Homo sapiens: one gene and its partners. The protein of the gene in region 1 interacts with the protein of each later gene in a pairwise test. Each region holds a gene or a part of one and is shown in the gene's direction. Other genes may lie near its edges.

What was found.
Region 2: the proteins of NINJ2 (region 1) and BTNL9 interact in binary tests that used the Homo sapiens proteins (3 or more experiments, as listed by UniProt).
Region 3: the proteins of NINJ2 (region 1) and SLC66A1 interact in binary tests that used the Homo sapiens proteins (3 or more experiments, as listed by UniProt).
Region 4: the proteins of NINJ2 (region 1) and CEACAM3 interact in binary tests that used the Homo sapiens proteins (3 or more experiments, as listed by UniProt).
Region 5: the proteins of NINJ2 (region 1) and ARL13B interact in binary tests that used the Homo sapiens proteins (3 or more experiments, as listed by UniProt).
Region 6: the proteins of NINJ2 (region 1) and ODF4 interact in binary tests that used the Homo sapiens proteins (3 or more experiments, as listed by UniProt).
Region 7: the proteins of NINJ2 (region 1) and VSIG1 interact in binary tests that used the Homo sapiens proteins (3 or more experiments, as listed by UniProt).

What each region holds. Positions count from the first base shown.
Region 1 is NC_000012.12:653,446-656,945, reverse strand, and holds part of NINJ2 (ninjurin-2), read left to right. Parts: intron 1-3,500. UniProt on the Homo sapiens protein: Its role in unclear. In contrast to NINJ1 paralog, does not mediate plasma membrane rupture (cytolysis) downstream of necroptotic and pyroptotic programmed cell death.
Region 2 is NC_000005.10:181,046,766-181,050,265, forward strand, and holds part of BTNL9 (butyrophilin-like protein 9 isoform a precursor), read left to right. Parts: intron 1-633; exon of another isoform or gene 634-750; intron 751-1,161; coding exon 1,162-1,506; intron 1,507-3,322; coding exon 3,323-3,500.
Region 3 is NC_000001.11:19,325,826-19,329,325, forward strand, and holds the end of SLC66A1 (lysosomal amino acid transporter 1 homolog), read left to right. Parts: intron 1-419; coding exon 420-562; intron 563-705; coding exon 706-798; intron 799-1,401; coding exon 1,402-1,587; exon of another isoform or gene 1,588-1,745; coding exon of another isoform or gene 1,746-1,796; exon of another isoform or gene 1,797-2,746; coding exon 2,747-2,818; 3' UTR 2,819-3,475; downstream 3,476-3,500. UniProt on the Homo sapiens protein: Amino acid transporter that specifically mediates the pH-dependent export of the cationic amino acids arginine, histidine and lysine from lysosomes.
Region 4 is NC_000019.10:41,809,321-41,812,054, forward strand, and holds the end of CEACAM3 (cell adhesion molecule CEACAM3 isoform 1 precursor), read left to right. Parts: intron 1-644; coding exon 645-697; intron 698-1,002; coding exon 1,003-1,034; intron 1,035-1,511; coding exon 1,512-1,577; intron 1,578-1,851; coding exon 1,852-1,917; 3' UTR 1,918-2,234; downstream 2,235-2,734.
Region 5 is NC_000003.12:94,039,155-94,042,654, forward strand, and holds part of ARL13B (ADP-ribosylation factor-like protein 13B), read left to right. Parts: intron 1-725; coding exon 726-834; intron 835-3,500. UniProt on the Homo sapiens protein: Cilium-specific protein required to control the microtubule-based, ciliary axoneme structure. May act by maintaining the association between IFT subcomplexes A and B. Binds GTP but is not able to hydrolyze fit; the GTPase activity remains unclear.
Region 6 is NC_000017.11:8,338,645-8,342,639, forward strand, and holds the start of ODF4 (outer dense fiber protein 4), read left to right. Parts: upstream 1-1,195; 5' UTR 1,196-1,407; coding exon 1,408-1,861; intron 1,862-3,995. UniProt on the Homo sapiens protein: Component of the outer dense fibers (ODF) of spermatozoa which could be involved in sperm tail structure, sperm movement and general organization of cellular cytoskeleton.
Region 7 is NC_000023.11:108,043,601-108,047,864, forward strand, and holds the start of VSIG1 (V-set and immunoglobulin domain-containing protein 1 isoform 2 precursor), read left to right. Parts: upstream 1-1,464; 5' UTR 1,465-1,530; coding exon 1,531-1,579; intron 1,580-4,264.

The sequences.
Region 1 (3,500 bases):
TGGATGCCCGGTTATTCTGGCACCATTCGTTGAAAAGACTATCTCTGCTACATCGTATTGTCTTTGTTCCTTTATCAAAGATCAGTTGGGTCTATTTCTGGGTTCATTATTCTGTTCCATTGATCTATTTGTCTATTCTTTGTCCAAAACACATTGTCTTAATTATTGTAGCTTTACAGTAATTTTTTTTTTTTTTTGAGACAGAGTCTTGCTCTGTCACCCAGGCTACAGTGCAGTGGCGCAATCTCGGCTCACTGCAACCTCCACCTCCCAAGTTCAAGCGATTCTCCTGCCTCAGCCTCCCGAGTAGCTGGGATTACAGGGGCCCGCCACCACATCTGGCTAATTTTTGTATTTTTAGTAGAGATGGGGTTTCACCATCTTGGCCAGGCTGGTCTCGAACTCCTGAACTTGTGATCCACCAGACCCTACCTCCCAAAGTGCTGGGATTACAGGTGTGAGCCACCATGCCTGGCCGCTTTACAGTAATTCTTCAAGTCGGGTAGTGTCAGTCCTCTGACTTTGTTCTTTTCCTTCAGTATTTTGTCACCTATTTTGGGTTTATTTTATTTTATTTTATTTTTAGACAGAGTCTCACTCTGTCTCCAGGCTGGAGTGCAGTGACGTAATCTTGGCTCACTGCAACCTCCGCCTCCTGGGTTCAAGTGATTCTCCTGCCTCAGCTTCCCAAGTAGCTGGGACAACAGGTGCCCACCACCACGCCCAGCTAATTTTTTGTATTTTTAGTAGAGATGGGGTTTCACCATGTTGGCCAGGATGGTCTCGATCTCTTGACCTCATGATCCACCCACCTCAGCCTCCCGAAGTGCTGGGATTACAGGCGCGAGCCACTACGCCCTGCGGGTCTTTTGCTTCTCTATATAAACTAACTATACAATTAGTTTGTTGATATTCACAACTGATTTTGATTGGGATTGTTTGAATCTATAGTGAGTCCTCTTATCCATAAACATGGAATATCTATCTATCTATTTATTTTATATTTATTTATAAATTTATTTATTTATTTATTAAGATGGAGTCTTGCTCTGTCACCCAGGCTGGAGTACAGTGGCACAATCTCAGCTCACTGCAAACTCCGCTTCCCAGGTTGAAGCAATTCTCCTGCCTCAGCCTCCTGAGTAGCTGGGATTACAGGTGCGTGCCACCATGCCCAGCTAATTTTTGTATTTTTAGTAGTGACAGGGTTTCACCATGTTGACCAGGCTGGTCTCGAACTCCTGACCTCAAGTGATCCACCCGCCTCAGCCTCCCAAAGTGCTGAGATTACAGACGTGAGCCACCGCGCTTGTCCCCTTCATTTATTTAGTTCCTTGATTTATTTAATCAGTTTTGTAGTTTTCCTCATAATAGATATTGTACATATTTTGTTAGATTTATACATAGGCATTTCACTTTTTTAGGTGCTAATGTAAATGGTAGTGTTTTAAGTTTCAGATTCTACTTGTTCAGTGCTGTTTCATAGGAAAGTGATTGCATTTTATGTATTAACCTTGTATCCTGCAACCTTGCTATAATTGCTTATTAGTTCCAGCAGATTTTTGGTCAGTTCATTTAGATTTTCTACATAGACAATCATGTCATCTGCAAACAGAGATAGTTTTATTTCTTCACTCCCAATCTGTAGTCCCTTCATTTCCTTTTTCTGAAGGAACTACATTGCATTTACTAGGACTTCCTAGCAAAGACTGGGAAACTGCTAAGACTTGTTCATACTGAATGCAAATTCAATGTATGAAGCAGTGGTGACAGGAGACATCCTTGCCTGTTTCTAATCTTAGTGGGAGTGCTTCTACTTTCTTATCATTAAGTATGATGTTAGTTATAGGCTTTTTGTAGATATTCTTTATCAAATTGAGGAAATTATCTAGTGTACTGAGAGTTTTTATCATGAATGGGTGTTGAATTTTGCCAAATACTTTTTCTACATCTATTAATATGATCATGTGATTTTTCTTTTTTAGTCAGTTGGTGTGATTAATTACATTAATTGATTTTCTTTTGTTTTTATTTTATTCTCTTTTTTTTTTTTTGAAATGGAGTTTGGATCTTGTTGCCCAGGCTGGAGTGCAATAGTTGATCTCAGTTCACTGCAACCTCCACCTCCCAGGTTCAAGTGATTCCCCTGCCTCAGCCTCCCGAGCAGCTGAGATTACAGGCGGGTGTCACCACGCCCGACTAATTTTGTATTTTTAGTAGAGACAGGTTTCTCCATGTTGGTCAGGCTTGTCTTGAACTCCCAACCTCAGGTGATCCACCCACCTCGGCCTCCCAAAGTGCTAGGGTTAAAGGCGTGAGCCACTGCACCTAGCATTAATTGATTTTCAAATGTTGAACCAGTCCTGCATACCTGGACTAAACCCCAGTTGGTGTGGTGTATAATTCTTTTTTTTTTTTTTTTTTGAGACGGAGTTTCACTCTTGTTGCCTAAGCTGGAGTGCAATGGCATGATCTCGGCTCACCGCAACCTCTGCCTCCCGGGTTCAAGCAATTATCCTGCCTCAAGGTCCGGAGTAGCTGGGATTATACGCATGTGCCACCATGCCCGGCTAATTTTTATATTTTTAGTAGAGACGGGGTTTCTCCATGTTGGTCAGGCTGGTCTCGAACTCCTGACAGGTGATCTGCCCACCTCGGCCTCCCAAAGTGTGGGATTACAGGCGTGAGCCACCGTGCCTGACCCCATCCATTTACTTTTAATCCGTATGTGTCTTTTTTTGTTTGATACAAGGTCTTACTCTATCACCCATCACCCAGGCTGGAGTGCAGTGGCACCATCTTGGCTCACTGCAGCCTGAAATGCCTTGGCACAAGCAATCCTCCCACTTCAGCCTCCCAAGCAGCTAGGACTACAGGCACAAACCACCACACCCAGCTATTTTCTTATTCTTTGTAGAGATGGGGTCTCACTATATTGCCCAGGCTAGTCTTACTCCTGGCTTCAAGTGATTTTCCCATTTCAGCCTCCTAAAGTGCTGGGTTACAGGGGTGAGATACCACACTCAGCTGATCTATATGTATCTTTATGGTTAATGTGAGTTTCTTGTAGACAACATACAGTTGAGTCTTCTTTTTGTGTCCATCCTGACAATTTCTGCCTTTCAATTATGCACTTAGACCATTGACATTCAAAGTGATTACTGATATAGTTGGATCTACCACATTTGTTACTGTTTTTCTATTTGTTACCCTCATTCTTTGCTCCTATTTTTGTCTTCCACTTTTTTTTTTGCCTTTGGTGGTTTTAACTGAGCATTTTATATGTTCCTGTTTTATCTCCATTCATAGTGTATCAGTTGTACTTTTTTTTAACTTTTTTTAGTTATTGCCCTGGAGTTTGCAGTTTACAAGTACAACAAATCCAAGTGCACTTTCAAATAACACTATACCATTTCATGGATCGTGTGAGTACCTTATGATAACAAAACAATCCTAATTCCTCCATCCTGTTCCACGTATCATTGCTGGCATTCATTTTA
Region 2 (3,500 bases), on another chromosome or scaffold:
ATGATTTGTTCCCGGAAAGCTGAGGAGAGCCGTAGAGTGGGAATATAGTTGGAGCAGAGGCTTACAGGATGCACGTTCCCCAGGAAGTTGACAGGTAGGGGATTAGCTGAGGTAGGGTGTGCCCAGGGAAACAGTCAGACATCGGTGTGTGGAGAGAGACAGCCGGAGAGAACCTGGAGAGGGAAACTTGTAGGAAGGGTATTGGATACTCACCCAGCGGGCAATGAGGTGCCTCAAATAGTGTGAACAAAGGAAGGTCCCTCCATTTCCTGTGGGCCAAGTGCAGGACAGGGGTGTCCATGACAAGAGAGCTTTGGGATGGAGTTTTAGCTGAACTTGGAAAGAAAGGAGAGGAGAAGTACAGAGGCCAGAGAGAAGAGTGAGTGCCTGTGGGGTGGCAGGGAACCGTGCGTGCGGAAGAACTGTGCAGGAGCAGCAACTCTCATGGGAACTGCAGACAACAGACCAGACCACAGGGAGCAGAGAGGCCCCATGAAGAAGCCGTCAAAGAGGAGGGTGATCAAATGAAAGATCCCAACAAATGAGTCTCAAAGGAAGGATTTGGTTGGCCTTTTGATAAGAAAACCTGTGGAGCAGGAAGCCCTCATGGATGATTTTTGATACCCTTTGTAGAAGCTGTACATGTGAATTATTTTTTAAACTTGGAAAATCAGACAAGCAAAAATGAGAAAATATCTATTCTCATCATGCAGAAATTATCACCATCAGCAATTTGATGTCTCCTTTCAGGTATTTTTCTCTGCACATTTATGCAAATACGTATGTTTTTTACTTAAGATAATATTCTACAGATTATTTTGACACTTGCTTTTTTGATCAAAGATTCCATTTCGCTTAATGCCTTGGTCATATTTACATAATTGTCCCCAAAATAACATTTGTACCTGGTTGGATGAAACCAGTTACCAGCTCAGCACCACAAATCTGGTTGTGATGTCACCTGTGTATTTGTTTAATCGTGCACTCAACGTTTTTTCGTAAAAATTACTTGTTCAAGGATCTAGGCCAGTTGTCCTGTAGAGTATCTCACCTTTCTTGTTTTTATGGTTTACTGTAGATTCCTCAGCTATAAAGGGGTGTGATAACTTTTTTAAAAATTGGATGAGGGTTGCTTTTGCCTGTTCTGACTTGTCATCCTAGAGGTCAAGGTGCTAGGCCCTGAGTATCCCATCCTGGCCCTCGTCGGGGAGGAGGTGGAGTTCCCGTGCCACCTATGGCCACAGCTGGATGCCCAGCAAATGGAGATCCGCTGGTTCCGGAGTCAGACCTTCAATGTGGTACACCTGTACCAGGAGCAGCAGGAGCTCCCTGGCAGGCAGATGCCGGCGTTCCGGAACAGGACCAAGTTGGTCAAGGACGACATCGCCTATGGCAGCGTGGTCCTGCAGCTTCACAGCATCATCCCCTCTGACAAGGGCACATATGGCTGCCGCTTCCACTCCGACAACTTCTCTGGCGAAGCTCTCTGGGAACTGGAGGTAGCAGGTGCGTGGACTGACCTAAGGCCCTGCAGAGGAGAGGGAGATCCAGGTGCTTTGCCAAGTAGAGGTGGAGTCACAGAGAACAGAAGAATGTCGGTGATTTTTAAAAAACATAAAAGCTGATGGATAGGTCCATTCTCAAATGAACAAACAAAACAAACAGTTCACCAAAAAATACACAAATAGCCCTTAAATATATGAAAAGGGCCGGGTACAGTGGCTCAAGCCTGTAATCCCAGCACTTTGGTAGACCGAGGCAAGCAGATCACTTGAGCTCCAGAGTTCGAGACCAGCCCAGGCAACATAGGGAGACCCCATCTCTTAGCCAGGTGTGGTGGTGCGTGCCTGTAGTCCCAGCTACTCAGGGGGGTGAGGTGGAAGGATCTGGCTGCAGTGAGCTTGACTTGCCACTGCACTCCAGCCTGGGTGACAACTCTGTCTTGAAATATATATATATATCTATATATATATCTATCTATATATATAGATATAGATATATATAGTATGCTATATATTAATTATATAGTTATATATTATATAATTATATTAGTTATATAATATTATATAATTATATTAGTTATATAATATTATATAATTATATTAGTTATATAATATATCATATATATGATATATAAATATATATAATATAAAAATAATATATATTATATAATATATATAATATATAATATATTGAGTAACAAAATTACTCATAGTGAGAGAAAGGCAAATCAAAGCTATGTCAAAATGCAATTTTTTTTTAACTGTCAGACTAGCAAAATTTCAAAAGCTCTTCCATGTACTGTTAATGGAGCTATGGAGAAGAAAGCTGTCTTATACTATGTTAGTGGAATTCAAAGTTGGAAAGCTCCCGGACAGGGAAATTTGGTAATACTTAAGAGGACTAGCTGTGTGGCTACCCTCTGACACAGCAATCCCACCTCCAGGAACTTACTCCACCTCCGATACCTCCAATATGAAAAAAGCATATGTATGAGTTTAATCTTTGTAAAGCTTTTTAAAAACAATTGCAAAATAGTGGAAACCACCTAAATGTCCAAGCATAAAAGCTGAGTATGCTCTATCCACCCAATGGAGTAATCTGTATTATGCATCTGAAACAATGATGAGGTGGTCTCTGAATGGATGCAGAGTGATTTCTAGTATTGTTAAGAGAGAAAAGTAAGATGCAAGGTTCGATAACATACACTTGCTTTGTAAGAAAGAAGGAGAAACATTGCAAAAGGGAACATAGGAAGGATAAACTAGAAGCTGATGAGATTGGCCGCTGAGGGTGAGGTGTGATGACGGGAAGGATGGCGCTTTTTTCCTGATACACATTTCTGTACAGCATTGGCATTTATGCCACATTAATGTTTTGCATACTCAAAATATAATGCTAGTTCCACAAGGATGGAGAGATAAGGGAGTGTGTATAATGCAGGCACTAGAGCTCTGGGGGAATTCAAGAGAAGGAGAAGAGTCACAACTCTAATTATTAGAATTTAGGGTGCTGCTATTCTTCATTCTAGGGAAACTGTCCCTTGCCTAACATGATTAAATGCCAGGAGCCCTTCCCCACCCAATGACCCCCTTCACATTTCCAAATGTCCCTCAGGGGCATTACTGTCCCCACATGCTACCACTGATTTAGACTGTCATTTCCCGTCCATGGGCGGGGAGCGCCAAGCCCACACACGTCTTAATAGCAGTCACACTTCATGATGCTTTATGGTGACTGCAAATGCTGAACAGTGGCAGGAATGTTATGCGTGATTTCTCAGAAGAAGCCTGACCTTTCCCACTCCTCCTGCCTCCACCAGGGCTGGGCTCAGACCCTCACCTCTCCCTTGAGGGCTTCAAGGAAGGAGGCATTCAGCTGAGGCTCAGATCCAGTGGCTGGTACCCCAAGCCTAAGGTTCAGTGGAGAGACCACCAGGGACAGTGCCTGCCTCCAGAGTTTGAAGCCATCGTCTGGGATGCCCAGGACCTGTTCAGTCT
Region 3 (3,500 bases), on another chromosome or scaffold:
TCAGCAGACACAGCTCCAGCTCCTCCTCTGTGTCCGGCCCTGGGCTTGGAGCTGGGGAAACGAGGGCAAGTCACACAGGCTGCCTCTGCCCCAGCCTTCAGGAGGAGCAGGAGACAAGGTCAGCTTGAGGCTATACAGACACGGGGAGGGACCTGGGGAGGAAGTTGTCTCATCAGCGTTCCTGCTTCGTGTAACCCCCTCCTGACCTCCCTGCCCTCAGCGTTTCACCTTTATAACTCTAGGAGAAGGGTACTGTTGTTGTACCCATTCGACAGATGAAGAATGAAAGCTCAGAGAGGTTAGGTCACTTGCCCAAGGTCACACAGCCCCTGAGGGGCAAGGCCAGGACTTAGCACCCTCCCCCGACAACCGCTGCCACTCAGCCATCTAACCTCAGCTTCCCCCTGCCTTGTGTGCAGTGTCTGCCCCCATCAACTCCGTGCTGTTGTTCCTCATGGGGATGGCGTGCGCCACACCGCTGCTGAGTGCTGCTGGGCCCGTGGCTGCCCCTAGGGAAGCCTTCCGGGGGCGGGCGCTCCTGTCCGTGGAGTCGGGCAGCAAGGTGAGGCGTGGGCGTGGCGGTCGAAGGGATGGAGGCTGGCTCATCCCCAGGGCTCTCCCCTGCACAGCCTCATGGGTGCTAAATGGGGTGGGGGATCACCTCTGGCTCCTACGAGACACCAAGTGCCCCCTTCTGCCCCACAGCCCTTCACCCGGCAGGAAGTCATTGGCTTCGTCATCGGCTCCATCTCCAGCGTGTTGTACCTGCTTTCCCGGCTGCCTCAGATCCGCACCAACGTGAGCCTCCAGCAGGGGCTGGGTGGGGCCGAGTAGAGGAGAGCTGGCCTGGCCACCCGGGCCCTCTGGGCTAAGGAGTAGCACAGCATAGGAGCCTTGGTTCAGAAAGTCTGGTCTACTCCCGCTGTTGGCTTGGGCAAGTTAATCCAATCTCCGAGCCTCCATTTCTGCTTCTGGAAAATGGGCGTGGCGTGGCCTGCCAGCCAGGCTACAAGAGGCCCATGTGTGTCTTGGGGGAGTGGGAGGTCAGGGGAAGGTGAGGGGCTGAGCTTGGAGGCCTGAGGGGAGAGGAGAAGCTGGGGAGTCGGGGAGGGGAGGCTTGCTGGGCAGCTAGAGCCTGTGTGGGGTGGAATGCAGGGTGGTGTGGGGCCACAGGCCTGGCACAGCCACGGTCTCCCGTGGACCTGGGCAGGGGCCTGGGGGGGCTTGTCTGTGGGTGGGAGGAGGCTCTTCTGTGTGTCGGGCCCATATCCCTGGGCACCCAGGGAAAGATTGGCTCAGAGCAGGTGCACTGTGGTGGGGCAGGTGGACATGTGGACAGTTACAATCCAGAGTGACAAGAGGCCTGTTCGAGGTCTCTGACCTGACCTCCTCCTGCCCCAGTTCCTCCGGAAGTCCACCCAGGGGATCTCCTACTCTCTGTTCGCGCTGGTGATGCTGGGGAACACGCTGTATGGGCTGAGCGTGCTGCTCAAAAACCCCGAGGAGGGCCAGAGCGAGGGCAGCTACCTGCTGCACCACCTGCCCTGGCTTGTGGGCAGCCTGGGCGTGCTGCTGCTCGACACCATCGTATCCTTCAGGGCGTGTGGGGCAGGTGGCGGGGTGTGGGCAAGGAAGCTTCTGCCTGCACACAGCGTCAGCACTCATCCGTCTCTTCCTCCCTTCATCCATCCGTCCATCCATCCATCCCTCCCTCCCTCCCTCCCTCCCTCCATCTGTTCACCCAGTCGTGCACACCTCCTGTGTGCCAGGCACCCAGCTGGACCCTGGAGCCGTGAGTGAGCAAGAACAGCCATGAGTGCCCCAGAAGCTTACAGCCCAGCGGGGCGCAGAGAGGACACAACGCTATCATCAAAGAATTACTTCATTGCAGTGGCACCAAGTGCTGCAGAGAAAAACAACAAGAGCGTCTAGCCAGGGACCGTCCTGGTTAGAGGGGCAGCAAAGGCCCCTATAAGTCTCATTGAACCTGTGACTTGACAGAGTAGGAGAAGTCAGGCGAAGGCAGGAGAGGAATGTTCTAGGCTGTGCAGACGAGAGCTGGAGTGTGGAGAGACACATGACTTGGTCAGACAAACCTGGGTTCAAATCCTGGCTCCTCCCCTGCTTCCTAGCTGTGTGACGCAGGGCACACAGTCAACCTCTCTGTGCTGCCGTGTCTTCACCTCAGTTAACAGCCACTGTCTCGTCAGGATGTTGTGTAAGATGAGGTATCTGGAAACACTCCCCACAGGACCCCGTTTTCAGTGAGGGCTCAGAAAGTGTTTGCTGAATGGCTGTAAAGAGCGTTACCTGGGTCTCATTTCGGAGCAAGTAAACATGGCCTTTGTTTTAATATTTGTTAAGTCCCTGCCGGGCGCAGGGAGGGGTGAAAGTTTAGGCTCTTGTGCCCCAAAACGGCCCAGCCACCTGGAAGCCTCCAGGACGCCACAGCTGAGAGCAAGCGAAGATCCTGGGCCAGGGTCAAGGGAGGCTGCCCACGGGAAGGAGAAGTCAGTGCTAGGCTTGGAGACAGATGGAGCTTGGCTAGGGCTTGAGGAGCCGGGCAGAAGTTCTGAGTGGAGGGCACAGCTAAGGTAGCGGCTGGGAGGTTATGGCTGGCCCTTCCCACCTGCAGCGTGGGGGTGGGAGGGAGGGGAGAGGGAGGCAGCTCCCAGGAGTCGAAGGCCCCCAGGGGCAGGTCCAACCCAGTCTCTGCTCAGCTTGGCCTTAACGGCGGCACCCCCAGATCTCCATCCAGTTCCTGGTGTACAGGCGCAGCACCGCCGCCTCGGAGCTTGAGCCCCTCCTCCCCAGCTGACCAGAACCAGGCTGAGCGCAGGAGGACAGGCACCACCGGATGCCACACCAGGCAGGAGGAGGTGTGGACAGTGATGGTACGGCGGCCCTGCATCAGCCTGCGGGTGGCCTCTGGATCCTCCGTGGACCGAACCGTCCCCCCAGGAACACACCTTCAGGTAGACCCCGAAGCCTCAAGGCCGGGGCTGGAGCGGAGACCCCAGGGCCTCTCAGGAGACAGTGAGGCTGCCCCTCCTACCACCTACCTCATTCTGCCTACTCACCCCAGGGGCCACAGCCACAGCCTGCTGGACTCAGGACTGTCCTGTCAACTCCAGACAACTGAATAAACAGGCCGGGTACAGTGGCTCGCACCTGTAATCCTAGCACTTTGGGAGGCCGAAGCGGGTGGACCACTTGACGTCCGTAGTTCGAGACCAGCCTGGCCAACATGGTGAAACCCCATCTCTACTAAAAATACAAAAATTAGCCAGGTGTGGTGGCACACATCTGTAGTCCCAGCTACTTGGGAGGCTGAGGCAGGAGAACTGTTTGAACCTGGGAGACAGAGGTTGCGGTGAACCGAGATCGTGCCACTGTACTCCAGCCTGGGTGACAGAGTGAGACTCCGTCTCAAAAAAATAAAAAAGATAACCGAGGAAACGGTACCTCCCCATGAGACCTGCTTCTGTTGCTCCTTCCCC
Region 4 (2,734 bases), on another chromosome or scaffold:
GGATCCTGGGCACCGTCACACAATGGGGAGTGGACCAGCCTGGACAGGCTGGGTGGGGTCAGTGCCCCCCATGGCTGATGTGGTAACCATAGGCCCTGAGGTGTGAGATGGGAGAACCTGGGCCTCAGAACAGCATGTCCTGGAGCGTCCTTTGTGTCTCTTGCCAAGGGGTTGAGAGAGAGGACAAGGACACTGTCCCATTTCAGCATCACCAGCCCTGAGTGCAGGGTCTGGCCACAGCAGGGACACTGAGTTCCAGGAGAATCCAAGACACTTGCGGTCCCCTCCGTGTCCTGCACACGTGGCCCTGCTTTGCCTCTGGGGACTTGACCCTTCCTCTCAGGCAAACCCTCGTGGTCTGTTTCCTTCCTTGGGTCCTCAGTCCCTTTCCTGGGTCCCTGGGTCAATGTTCTCCTGGCCCGGCATCTGCCTGAGGGTCCTTCCCCTCTGCTCAGGACAGATGTGGGTTCCTAAAGCCTTTCCTCAACTCCCCTCTGCTGGGCTCCCCCTAACACAAACCTGAGGGAGACAGGAGGTCTCCATGCCCATCCTTGAAAATGGGTTTCCCTTCTTGTCCCCTGTTCGAACTCCAAAGTTGTGGCTTTTAACCTGGCACCCTCCCAAATGACCCTGACCTTTCCTAGAACCAGCATCCAGCGTGACCTCAAGGAGCAGCAGCCCCAAGCCCTTGCCCCTGGTGAGTGTCCTCTCAGCCCAGGTGTGGCTGGGAACCCCTAGGACAGCCCCACAGTGTCCGCTCCTGCCAGTCACTGCCAGGCAGACTCTGATCCTTTCCCGGGGGCTGCAAGGAGGATCTCATAAAACATCACACAGGGGACCCCAATTGCTTGGGTCAGCCCTCACCTGTGGGCTCTGGGTCATGGGTCACCTCCCCAACCTCAGCTGCTCAGGTATCTTAGAGCTGAGGACCCCCTACGCCTTCCTGGAGAGGGGATAAGGCTCTCCTCCCACCCTGCTGCTCACTCCTGTCTCTGTTTCCAGGCCGTGGTCCCTCCCACAGCTCTGCCTTCTCGGTAAGCCTGTCCCCTTCCAGCCCCTTTCTACTGGGGTCCCAGCTGTGCAGGCTCTGGGCAGAGGGACCATCAGCCCCCCAGCACAGAACAGACCCACCTTCCCCCAAAACACACAGGACAAGGCTAGCCCTGCCCTGGCCAGGAGCTGGGCCTCCCTACAGGGTCAGGACCACCCACGCCCTGTGCTGACCCCTCCCCGGGACCCTCCATCACCTGAGGAGACCCCTGGAGTGCAGCAGGTGCAGAGTGGACACTGGGACCATCAGTCAGGGGCCCACATTAACAAGGGTGCAGGGTGGGCCCAGCCAGGAAAAGGGTCAGGGTGCTGTGTCCACACTGGGAGGCTGAGCTCAGGGGCAGAGCTGGTCACTCCTGAGGGGAAATGACCAGAAGTAAACACAGAGAAGTAAATCCTGGCCAATCAGAGACAGGAAACTTCCAGGCTGGGCCTCCATGACCCTCCCTCCCTGTCCACAGATGTCCCCTCTCTCCACTGCCCAGGCCCCCCTACCCAACCCCAGGACAGCAGCTTCCATCTATGAGGTGAGTGTGGGCCACGGATGTTCTGGTCCCACAGGCCCCAGGGGACCCAGGATCTTCCCCTACTGGCATCGGCTGAGCTCTGAGATTCAGGAAACTGCTGTGAAAATAAGAACGGGGGTGGCGAGCAGAGGAGGGAGGGGCTTGGGAGCAGGAACCCCCTGAGCACAGCCAGGTTCAGCCCCAGAGCAGCCCTGGATGGGCCCAGAGCCTGGGAGACGCCACACCCTGTTCTGAGGAGACTAGAGGGGTCCAGGCCTCTTCTCTGTTTTAACAGGAATTGCTAAAACATGACACAAACATTTACTGCCGGATGGACCACAAAGCAGAAGTGGCTTCTTAGCTTCCTCCAGGAGCTGCTCCTGTGTGTTGATGGAGAGTCCCCAAGGCCCCCAGCCCTGGGGATGGGGAAGGACATGAAGCCTGAGCCAGAGAACCAGCTATAAGTCCTGAGAAGACACTGGTGTCTGGGGGCAGGGAGGGATGGGGGTCCCTGATGAATATCTGGAGACCTCGACAGCCTGCCCTAGGCCCTGGGTGGGTCAGGACAAAGGCCTCTCATCACCGCAGAAAGCGGGGGCTTGCAGGGAAAGTGAATGGGCCTGTGGCCCACCTGGGGTCACTTGGAAAGGATCTGAATAAAGGGGACCCTTCCTCTCATTAGCTGTTTTTCTGCTAGTGGGAACTTAGCAAAAATTCGCCTGAAACTCCATATCCATTCTCTCCTGGGTCACACAAGGAAAATGTCATCTCCAACTTATTTCAACCCCAGTCTCTCTTCCCTGGGAGGCAGAAATAGGGGGTTGGGAGTCAGGCTGGGGTGGACCCTACACAGGAAAGGGCAGGATTCACAGGAGACCTGCCCAGCCAGCTGAGCGCTTGGCTGTGCTCATACTGCCCCAGGGACCCACGGTGCCTAGCCCTGGCCACTGGGTTTCTTCTCTGTCCAAAAGGCCAGTGCTCAGGACATCTTTACCCATATCAGGGGACACACAGAGGGCCTGTCAGAGTAATCAAGGTGAGGACAGACCCAGAATTTAGTCCTGGAGTAAAATCCTCCCAGACACTACCTGGGACTCTAGCCCATCATTTCCCATCAGTTCCCACTTTACCCCCTGGAGTGGATCTCACTGAACAATCCTCCACTCCACACAGGAGAT
Region 5 (3,500 bases), on another chromosome or scaffold:
TTCCTAGTTTTGTAAGAGAAGACTTAGCCCTTAAGAAAAGAATTAATAAGAATAATTACTATTTGGCTGGGCGCGGTGGCTCACACCTGTAATCCCAGCACTTTGGGAGGCAGAGGCAGGCAGATCACAGGGTCAGGAGATCGAGACCATCCTGGCTAATAGGGTGAAACCCCGTCTCTACTAAAAATACAAAAAATTAGCCAGGCCTGGTGGCGGGCGCCTGTAGTCCCAGCTACTCAGGAGGCTGAGGCAGGAGAATGGCGTGAACCCGGGAGGTGGAGCTTGCAGTGAGCCGAGATGGTGCCAATGCACTCCAGCCTGGGCGAGAATGCAAGACTCCGACTCAAAAAAAAAAAAAAAAAAAAAGAATAATTACTATTTGTTAACACCAGTAAAGAGGACAGCATTGATTTTGGAGGGTAATTAATAAGTTGATCAGTAATACCCTTGGCACATGGAAGAATAATTGCACTGTTGATATTAAGAAGTCACTCATAGGAAATGTCATTTTTATCAGCATTTTTTTAATTGAAATGATTAGTCTTTACATGGGAGGAAGCAGCCTCTTACCTGCATAAGGATTTTTGAAATGCTCTCAGTAATTCAAAACCATGTCCAGATGTTTAAATTACTACATGTAATAGCCTTATACCTATTGCAGTTTTCTTTAACATGGTTCAGCACTTTCTCAAAGGAAATTTCAATTATTTTTCCTCAAACGATAGAAAACAAAATGAACAGGAGCAGGCTGAACTCGATGGAACCAGTGGTCTGGCTGAGTTGGACCCAGAACCAACGAATCCTTTCCAGCCAATAGCATCTGTAATCATTGAGGTATGAATGATGGCAAATGTAATTTTTGTATCTTAAGTTATAAGTTGGAACTTGGAAAAGAAGGTGGAAAGTTGGGAAAGGAGGCAGGGAAACAGATGTGTTTCTTCTGAGAGATTATTTCTATAAGAAATTAAACATGAGAGACTGATTAAAGGTTTACTGCTTTTTCTTACTCTTAAATTACCTTTGAATCTAGTGTGAAAGGGGGAATATGACTTCAGAATTAAATGACAATAAATAAATTTGACTGTAGCAATTATTATAGTTGCTGTGTTGACAAATCTATTCTGTCATTTATTTCATATAGTAATAACATATTTACTCTTATTTACATTTTCTGTGTTTCTGTATTGCTGTTACTGTCCATCTGCAATATTTACTTAGAATGCATTAGGGTACATAAACAATTTTCTATTTTTCCAGGATACTTAAGGATGTTTGAAACTGCAATAAATTCTCCTATATCTGAATATCATTTATTTCCATTTTAAATCAGAAATTTTACCAACATTAATTTGTAGATTTTAATTATGAAGACGTTAAGGGGTTGTGTGTGTGCGCGTCTGTGTTTTTGTTTTCATTTTCTGCTCATGTCCAGAGTTTGCATTGGCTCTGCTTTTATGGCTGGCAGCAGCGATGCCTCTTCTGAGGCATTGCTTCCTAAACCTTAGGCTGACTTCCTGGTCCTACCTGGAAGGTTTTTTTTTTTTTTTGTCTCCATTCTATCAGATATTATATTTGTCAAGTTTTGTTTTATGTTCTTTTAAAAATATTGAGAGAGAAGAGGTCAAGTTGTACTTTTTACTTTGAAACAACAATTATTCTCTGTGTATAATAAGGCTTGCTTTATAAATAATGGCTAATTATTTTATAGTACCATGGGTATAAATTGTGTAGAAGGCTCTAGTGCTTCTCCCAGCACCGTATTTCCCACAATGTATAGAAGTGAATAATAGTGGTGTACGACATAGTATATATCACATATAGAAAGTTCCCAAATTAATAAGTGGCATGGGGAAAGTACACTTAACGCTTTGAAACTACAATTTCAAGAAGATGGCCAGTAAAGAAATAAAAGCAAATTAGCTATAGTTTTTTTTTTTTAACCATACAGATTTTCTCTTTTTTTCCCCACAAAACTTTTTTAGCATGTTTCTTGGTACAGAAGCACCTAACATTTTTTTTTATTATTACTGCAGATAATTAAAATGGTGAGATATTGGAAGGTATTGGTTCCAGAAGAGACAGACAGATCAATGGAACGAATATTAATAAACCTATTTATGTATGAGCATTTTAGTACAAGATAAAGATAACATTTCAAATCTGAGAGAAAAAAATAATAGAACAACTTAATAACCATTTAGAAAAAGGAAAATTATTGAATATTGTATACCCAGTTAAATTCCAAAAGTATCAAAAACTTAAATACGTTTTAAAAAGTGAAAGTCTTCAAGTTACTAGTAGATAATATAGATAAGTCTTTATATGTGCTTGGAGGAGGAAAAAATTTCAAAGCAGGACAAGCAAGCCACAAATCATAAAGGAAAAAGGTGGATAGATCTTATACTACCCAATTTTTAAAGAGCTATTCTACAAAGTTAAAAAGCAAAAATGAAAAGAAGTAAACTCTAGTGAGAAATAGAACACATAGTCTTATGTGACTCTGTGACTAGTCCTAGTGACACGTATGCACAAAAGAACTCTTACAAATTACTATGAAAATAATGAGAATCTAATAGAAAAGTGGGCATTGGGTTACCAAAGGCAGTTTCCTAAAAAAAAATTAAAAATGTCAATAAGTGGCCAGGCACGGTGGCTCACGCCTGTAATCCCAGCACTTTGGGAGGCCGAGGTGGTTGGAGTTCAAGACCAGCCTGGCCAAGACGGTGAAACCCTGTCTCTGCTAAAAATACAAAAAATTAGCCAGGCGTGGCACGAACCTATAATCCCAGCTACTCCGGAGGCTGAGGCAGAGAATTGCTTAAACCTGGAGGGGTGGAGGTTGCAGTGAGCCGAGATCGTGCCACTGCACTCCAGCCTGGGCGACAGAGCGAGACTCCATCTCAAAAAAAATAAAATAAAATAATTCAATAATAGTTCATTTTTGCTGGCAATAAAAATTTTAACTTAAACTCAAATGAAAATAACACTAAGTTAAATAAAAATATGTATTAATACGGCAGAGATGTAAAAGGTCAATCATGATATGTGGTATTGAATATGATGTAGAAAAAAATCACTCTCCCAACCCTTTGCCTGAGGTTCATTGATTCATTTTTTCTGAAGGGAAGTTTGTGACTATATGTGACATTTTTAAATTTGCCTACCCACTGACTCAACAGTTCTACTGTTAGCAATTTAATCTAAAAAAATTAAAAAAAAGCTATTAGGATGATTCTGTTTTTTAAAATAGTGAAAAATTGGAAATACTTTGTTCATTGATACAGAATTGGTATGCTATAAACATTCAAAATAATAATTGATGAAAATAATTGTATCTAACATTTATGTAGCATTTACTATGTGTAAGGCACTGTTCTGAGCACTTTATATATTCATTGGCATGGAAAGAAATGTATATTCTTCAATAAAAACTTCAATTCTTTTTTGTTTAAACAACAAATACATAAGTATATATAGATACATATATTTATGTATGTTTC
Region 6 (3,995 bases), on another chromosome or scaffold:
CTAAACCTTTTCTAATAAAAGTACTGCCTTAAGACCAGCAAAGAGAGACAGATTTGAGCTGGATTCCCGTATCCTCGTGGGTCAGCTCACAATAAAGCTTTCCTTTTCTCAAAACCTAGTGCCCTAGTATTGGAGTATTGGCTTCTATGCACATCTGGCAGCGAGCACTTTTGCTTGGTAACAGCGCCAGGTTCTTTTTAACAACCAGCTATTGCGGGGAGCTAATGGAGTGAGGTCTCAGGGAAGGCGTTAATCCAATCACAAGGCATCTGCCCCCATGACCCAAACACCACCCACTAGGCCCTCTCACCTCCCATCACCACCACACTGGGGAGCAAATTTCAGCATGAGGTTTGGTGAAGACAAATTAACCATATGCAGACCACAGGAGGGCCTCTCACATACCATTGCTCATATGTAAAGGGAGGCAGAAGCTGGAGGGAGGTGTCAGATCCACAGTTCTGAGCTGTGGCCTGAGAAACAGGATTTCCGGAAAGAGTTAGAGCTGGAGCCACAGGCCAGGCAAGGTGGCTCACACCTGTAATCCCAGTGCTTTGGGAGGCCAAGTGGGGAGGATCTCATGAGGCCAGGAGTTTTTTTTTTTTTTTTTTGAGGCTGAGTTTCACTCTTGTTGCCCAGGCTGGAGTGCAATGGTGCGATCTCGGCTCACCGCAACCTCCGCCTCCCAGGTTCAAGCAATTCTCCTGCCTCAGCCTCCTGAGTAGCTGGGACTACAGGCATGTGCTACCACGCCCAGCTAATTTTGTATTTTTAGTAGAGATGGGGTTTCTCCATGTTGGTCAAGATGGTCTCGAACTCCCGACCTCAGGTGATCCACCCACCTCGGCCTCCCAAAGTGCAGTGATTACAGGCGTGAGCCACCGTGCCTGGCAGAGGCCAGGAGTTTGAGACCAGGCTGGGTAACATATCAAGACCCCATCTCTACAAACAATTGAAAAATTAGCCAGGCATGCTGGCACAATCCTGTAATCCCAGCTACTCAGGAGGCTGAGGTGGGAGGATCACTTGAACCCAGGAGTTCAAGGTTGCAGTGAGCCAAGGTTGTGCCACTGCATCCCAGCCTGGGCAATAGAGGGAGACCCTGTCTCTCTCTCTAAAAAAAAAAAAAAAAAAAAAAAAAATTGCTGAAGACTTGGCTTCCCTCCCCCATCTCACTGTGCCCCAGGAAAATTCCGTGGCAGTTAGGGGACCTGGCCTGCTGAATGGGTTGGGGCCTTCTCTTGGATCAAGAGTCTCTTATTTGATCGAGGTCTGTTATTAGACTTCCTCATTCTTTCTCAGACCTCAGGCTGCATGGTGGCAGCTGATGAAAATATCCAAAAGATGAGAAGAGACAATTGAGTCTGGTGAGGGAAAGGGGAGACAGAGGGTGAAGTGGTGCTCAAGATGGATGCAGAGTACTCTGGGAATGAGTTCCCCAGGTCAGAAGGAGAAAGAGACCAACATCAGAGACCTGGAAAGGAAAGGAAGAGTGGGGAGGCAGGATGGGGCACAGGTGAGCTGGGACAAGATGGGAGACTGCTGTCCTCCACCCTCTCCCTCAGTAGTAACAGGTCCTTGGGCCAGCGCCAGAACTCTCCGCTGCCCTTTCAATGGAGAATCACACACAGCTTCCGCTGGATGGCCCAGGTGTTGGCCTCTGAGCTCAGCCTGGTTGCCTTTATCCTACTATTGGTCGTGGCCTTCTCCAAGAAATGGCTGGACCTCTCTAGGAGCCTCTTCTACCAGCGCTGGCCCGTGGATGTCAGCAACAGAATCCACACATCAGCCCACGTTATGTCCATGGGGCTCCTGCACTTTTACAAATCCAGGAGCTGTTCTGACTTAGAGAATGGGAAAGGTGAGCCCCTCCACCCCCCATCCCAGCCCAGGCCGCCAGCCTGTCTTGGCCTCTGTATCTGCACCCTGGATGTATTCTTGTTCCCTCTTTCTGGTCATCTTTACTTTTTGGCCTGCAAGATGGTTCCACTGGCACTGAGACCTCCGATGATCGTTTCTCATCCTGTAGCCTGGCTAAATAGATTTGATTGGTGCAATGGAAAATGTCACTGCTTTTGATAAAACCCAGAGCCAAATCTGTGCTTCTAAGAATGCTGTGAGAGAGTTGGGCATGGTGCTGCACACCTGTAGTCTCAGCTATCCAGGAGGCTGAGGTGGGAGGATTGCTTGGGCCCAAGAATTTGAGTCCAGCCTGGGCAATTTAGTGAGACTCCTGTCTCAAAAAAAAAAAAAAAAAAATCAGGCTGGGCACTGCGTCTCACACCTGTAATCCCAGCACTTTGGGAGGCCAAAGCAGGCAGATCACCTAAGGTTGGGAGATCGAGACCATCCTGGCTAACATAGTGAAACCCCGTCTCTACTAAAAATACAAAAAATTAGCCAGGCGTGGTGGCACATGCCCGTAATCCCAGCTACTCTGGAGACTGAGGCAGGAGAATTGCTTGAACCCGGGAGGTGGAGGTTGCGGTGAGCCGAGACCGCACCATTGCACTCCAGCCTGGGCAACAAGAGTAAAACTCTGTCTCAAAAAAAAAAAAAAGTTACGAGGGGCATGGACTCAGCACAAGAGAATCATTCATTAATCGCCTAATTTACCAGGGACAAGAGCCCCAGTGAGATGGGGGTTTCCTTAGTCTTGTGTACCCAGAGCTTTGAGAGGACTCCTTGCAATGTCCCCTCTCAGGCCCTGATCCCACACATTCTCCTTTCCTTCTGCCTCAGGCCTTGCTTTTCTGGATCATTTTCCTTTTTCCACATCTGGCTTCTGTGTTCCTTCTTTCCCTGAATTCTTGCAGCTGCTTCATTCCTCATCCTTGTTTTTTTCTGTTTGTTTCGCTGATTTTTTTAGAGACAAGGTCTCACTCTGTCACCCAGGCTGGAGTACAGTGGTGCAATCATAGCTCACTGCAGCCTCGAACTTCCAGGCTCAAGGGATCCTCCTGCTTTAACTTCCGGAGAAGCTCAGACTACAGGCCGTGGCCACCACACCTGGTTCTTATTGTTGTTAGTCTCTGGTTATGCTGTTCCCTCACCCCTCAGGAATTTGGAGTTCTTTCCCTGCTCCTGGGGAAAACCAGAGCTTTTGACCCTTATTTCCATTTTTTCACTCTCCTTAGCATGAAAAAAATCACACAGCTATTATTTTCTGAAAGTATTATGTCCTTATCATATGAATATGAAAATATTCATATAATGAATTATGAAAGCATTATGAAAATATTATGTCCTTATTATAATAAATTTGGGGAAACAAAAGCTATCCTTTATTGTACACTTACTCCATTTGTTCAATTTAGTCCTTAGTCAATCCTAAGGGATAGGGATAATTATCCCTATTTTAGAGATGAGAAAATTGGGACTCAGAGAGATTAAGTACCTTGCTCAGGGTCATAAAGCTATTTAGATTGAACCAAATGACATGCTAATATTTGACTGCTTTTCACCTACAAAAGGAGAATTTCACATGGATCAACCTAATAATGGCAGGGTTGGAATTGCAACTCAGGTGTGCCTGGCTCTAAAACTCACATAGGCGCCTTGCTCTACGGAGTTACTCAAAGACAGCCAGGCTTTTTATTTTTATTTATTTATTTATTTGAGACAGAGTCTTGCTTTGTTGCCCAGGCTGGAATGCAGTTGCGGTCTCAGGTCACTGCAACCTCTGCCTCCCGGTTTCAAGCGATTATCCTGCCTCAGCCTCCCAAGTAGATGGGATTACAGGCGCCCACCACCATGCCCAGCTAATTTTTGTATTTTTAGTAGAGACGGAGTTTCACCATGTTGGCCAGGCTGGTTTTGAACTCCTGACCTCAGATGATCCGCCTGCCTCGGCCTCCCAAAGTGCCTCGGCTCACGGATTACAGGCGTGAGCCACCGCATCCGGCCAAACATCACTGATTTTTAAAATTTATTTAATTAGGATTAGGTGTGTATAAACAGTGAAAATTCAAAGAATACAAAAGATTGTATACTGA
Region 7 (4,264 bases), on another chromosome or scaffold:
CTTGGCTAGTAAGAGGAGGAAGAAGAAAACTCTAGTGATGGAAATCACCTGGAGCCAACGTTTGGCATCAGACATGAGCATGGACAGGATAGGCTGCAAGGAGGAATCAGGCATGATGGAAGCAAAATGGCTTTCTAAGAAGCAGTGGGAGATTGGAATGGCTAAAGTAAGATGGGGTCAAACATTTCCTGTAAATTAAAGACAGGAACATAAAACATATCACTTGAAATTTGTACACATTTCATGTGACTGAACACTTTGAGGCAATAAATCTTGACATACTTTTTCAGGGGCATGAGTTAATGTGGCTAAAGTTCAGATGAGGTGAGGATCAGATATTGGAAGAATGGGAATCCATATTAAGGACTTTGGATTTGATGAAAGAGTCCATTTATGGTGTTACTGGAAATATTTCACTAGGGCTGGAACATTGGCCTGCGGCTGGCACACAGGATGAAGGTGGAATAAGTCAGGGAGACCACTTAGGAAGCTGCTATGATAGGCCAAAGTGGGAAGCTGAGTACCTGGACCAAGATGGAAGCAGCAGATTGGAGAAAGAACACATCTGAAAGTCGCTGTGGAGATGGAAATGATAGGACTTAGAAATCACATGGGAAGAGCCAGAGAAAGTCCTTAGGTTTCTCCGGGTAACTTAAGCATAATAGGAACACTATTAGAAGTTCATGTTCCCATGAAAGTTCCTTACCTGTGGAGCCTCCCATGCCCTCCTGGTGAACCTCCATTTCTAAGGAAACCCTATAGCATTTACTGAGTATCTTAATTCTCCAAAAAATCAGACTTCTCCAAAGAAAGTCTTTAAGCATGTATTCACTAACTTGATTTTGCAAAATTACGTTAGCAAATACGTGCTATAAGGTTTCTAACCCGACAGACAAAAGCATGTAAATCATTTTACTGCTAGTTTTGGTGGAGGGTAGTGACAACTGCCAGTGTTTCAAAAAAGAGTAACATATCCAGAGTTTGTTCACACAGAAATGAATGCTTTTTAGCTTCATAACCCCTGTGCCCTTCCCGTGAGCCCCATCTCCCCAGGAAACGATATAGTACCAATTTACTAACTTAATTTGTAAAAGGAGGTTAGTGAATCAATTCTGTAAGACTCATGGAAATATTTGAAATTAATTAGCCTTGTCAGCTTTTATTTGCATAGGCTCTCTTCCAACCATATCCCCCAGCCCAAGTACAACGTTTTAGTAAGATTGATTTTAAACAATGAGACTTAGAGAATCTGTGTACAAGGAGCTTGAATAATTTAAATGCGTGGGTTTATTATTAACACAGTAGCAAATATATCAAGGAAACACGCCCCATGAAAAGTGTTTCAAAGAAACACAAATCTGTACTGAAAAAAGTCTATACGCAATAAGTAAGCCCAAAGAGGCATGTTTGCTTGGCGATGCCCAGCAGATAAGCCAGGCAAACCTCGGTGTGATCGAAGAAGCCAATTTGAGACTCAGCCTAGTCCAGGCAAGCTACTGGCACCTGCTGCTCTCAACTAACCTCCACACAATGGTGTTCGCATTTTGGAAGGTCTTTCTGATCCTAAGCTGCCTTGCAGGTAAGGAAAGGATCTCCAAACCACCAAATATAATTGGAAACAGAGTTTCCTTTTAAATAAAAATTCCACATTTTTACATAGAATTTTCATCTCCTGTACTTCAAATGAATTGTGATTAGTATGATGAGTTAATTTTCAGAACTCTTGCTTAGCAAACATATGCCATGCTGATATATTAGGGGTGTAAGCCCATAATATTATTGTTTTATGGAGCTTCTGAATGAAAATTTTCTCAGAAAAAAATATAGTTTATTACTTTACTTACTTTGAAAAGTGAAAAAAATGAATTTACTCAGAAACCAAACTTTGTGCTAGGGATAATTTTGTCTCTGTTTTACTTACTTTAGTGTTTCCTTTAAGCTCAGTGATTGACTTGCTCTAGCAGGCAGAGCCTGGGTTGGAGGGCCTGCCCTGGCTTACATATGGGAAGAACAGAAATTTACTGAGTACTTTACTGTCTAATATTTCTTAAGGAGTTGTGGTTTTCCAATCCTAAGACTGTATTTTGCAAAATATGTGAGTGATTTATGGTGCACAACATGGGTGATTTTAGGTATCTGAACAGAAGAAAATCAATTTTGGAATCAAAATACTGATGTTAGTTAGATCCAGGAGAGATCATTAATTCCAAAAATCCCTTGGGTAGTTTTCAAATATCAGATACATTTTGCATCTGTTCTTATAAGTTAGGTCCATAGTAAATACAATAATATTGTTTATCCAAAAACAGGATTTTCAAGCCATTAGTAATATTAGGCAGTGGTTAGAATGAGGTTTACTAGGCGTATTAATGACATAAGAAAATACCCACGATAAAATATTAAGTGAAAAAGCAGGATGCACACATATGCCTAGAATAAATTACTAGAAGGTTATATACCGAAGTGCTCATGGTGGTTGCCTCTGGGTGATGGGATTATAGATGATTTTAATTTTATTTCCCAGCTTTTCATACTTCCTGGGTTTTCTACGAAGAACATTATGCTATTTTTATAATTAGAAAAAAGTGTTACTTTTCAAAGTGATCTCATGTTTAGAAATAGTTCTTTAAATGTTCATTACTAAATGTTTAAGCATAGATGTTTTATGGAGTTAAACATCACCAGAAGGCAATACTCCATTTGTCCAGTGACCTAACTAGGCCCTAGAGCTGGAAACACATGTTCCTATTTTCCCTTCTCCCCAGGCATATTCATTTAAATGTAACTTTAGATATGGAAGTTTTGTCTCTTCTTAAAGGGTTTCCAGTCATTAGCCAGTTGGGTCGACCCCTGGGCCTTCTGCATCAGCCCTCTAAGATCATACCTGTTTCCCTATGTGAAGCCTTGCCCTGGCCCATACTAGGCACAGGGTTTGGAACGGTTGTTAAGAACAGTTTTTTTTTTTTTTAACTGTACCTAACATACAAGTAATTTTTACTGATTATAAATGTAATGCATGGTCATTGTAGAAAGGTTGGAAATATGGAAATTTAAAATAAAATAAAAATCATCTGCAATTTTACCACTCAGATTTGGGTGAATTATTATTCTTTTATTTGCAGGTGTATATATTACATTTTAAAAATTGGGTTTATTCCTTGTATACTTTTTTATTGTTTAAAAAAATTGTTTAGCATCATGTCAGGATTTTATTTTATTGTGACTTTTAGAACAAGACCAATAAATACTTCAGAGTGTGTTTCCTAAGTTACTATATAACTGATTTTGTTGGTATATAGTGTACACTATATATCTACACACATATTATCTAGTTGGCCCAAAGCAGTAGTGTCAGTACAGCAAATTGTGGTATGCTCTATTGTCGTTTGCTGTGCTTACATATGTATTGAAGTCAGAGAAAGGATCACTTTAGTAATCTACACCTGTCATTAGCAGTGTTCATCAGTTGATCTGGACAACTGATAGTGTTTCCATCAATGTGCAATTTGATGTTCTTCCTGGACTTGTTTTGGAGAGAATGTCACTTTTTGGTGTTAAGCGTGGTGCCTAACACATAGTGGATGCATAGTAAATGTTTGTTGAAAGAATGAATTACTTTCCCAAATTCCAAACATCCAGACATCATTTTCACATACATATTTAAAATTGATTTTGATATAACTAAACAGGTCAGATTTTGCTTAAATCAAAATATTTTCAATGACTTCTTAGGAATTCTTAGGTTAAATTCTAATTCAGGAAAACGAGTTTTAATCAAACTTCTGCAAAAAATTTATGCATATCATTTTAGGTATTTGAAATATGTATTAGTCACCTCTTAGAAAGATATGTTAATGTGGGTTTCATTTTCTGGAGGTATATGCTATGCATTTTAAAGGAGTAATATATTTGAACTTTGAGTTTGCACTCAAATCCAAAAAAGTGAGTGATCATTTGATTATATTATTTCCTAAGTCAAAATGAATCTATTATATATGAAGTTGCTGGAAATTAAATCACTTCAAATCTATCAGATTAAATATGAATATTTGGGGGATATTTTGCTGTGGTACATTAGGAGGATAATAATCCTTCTATAAGCAAAATGTTTGCCACCTTGTAGGCATTAAATGAATGAACAATCACCACCAAAATACAAGACATTCTCTCTCTCTCTCTCTCTCTCTCTCTATATATATATATATATACATATATATATACATATATATACACATATATATATACATATATATATACACATATA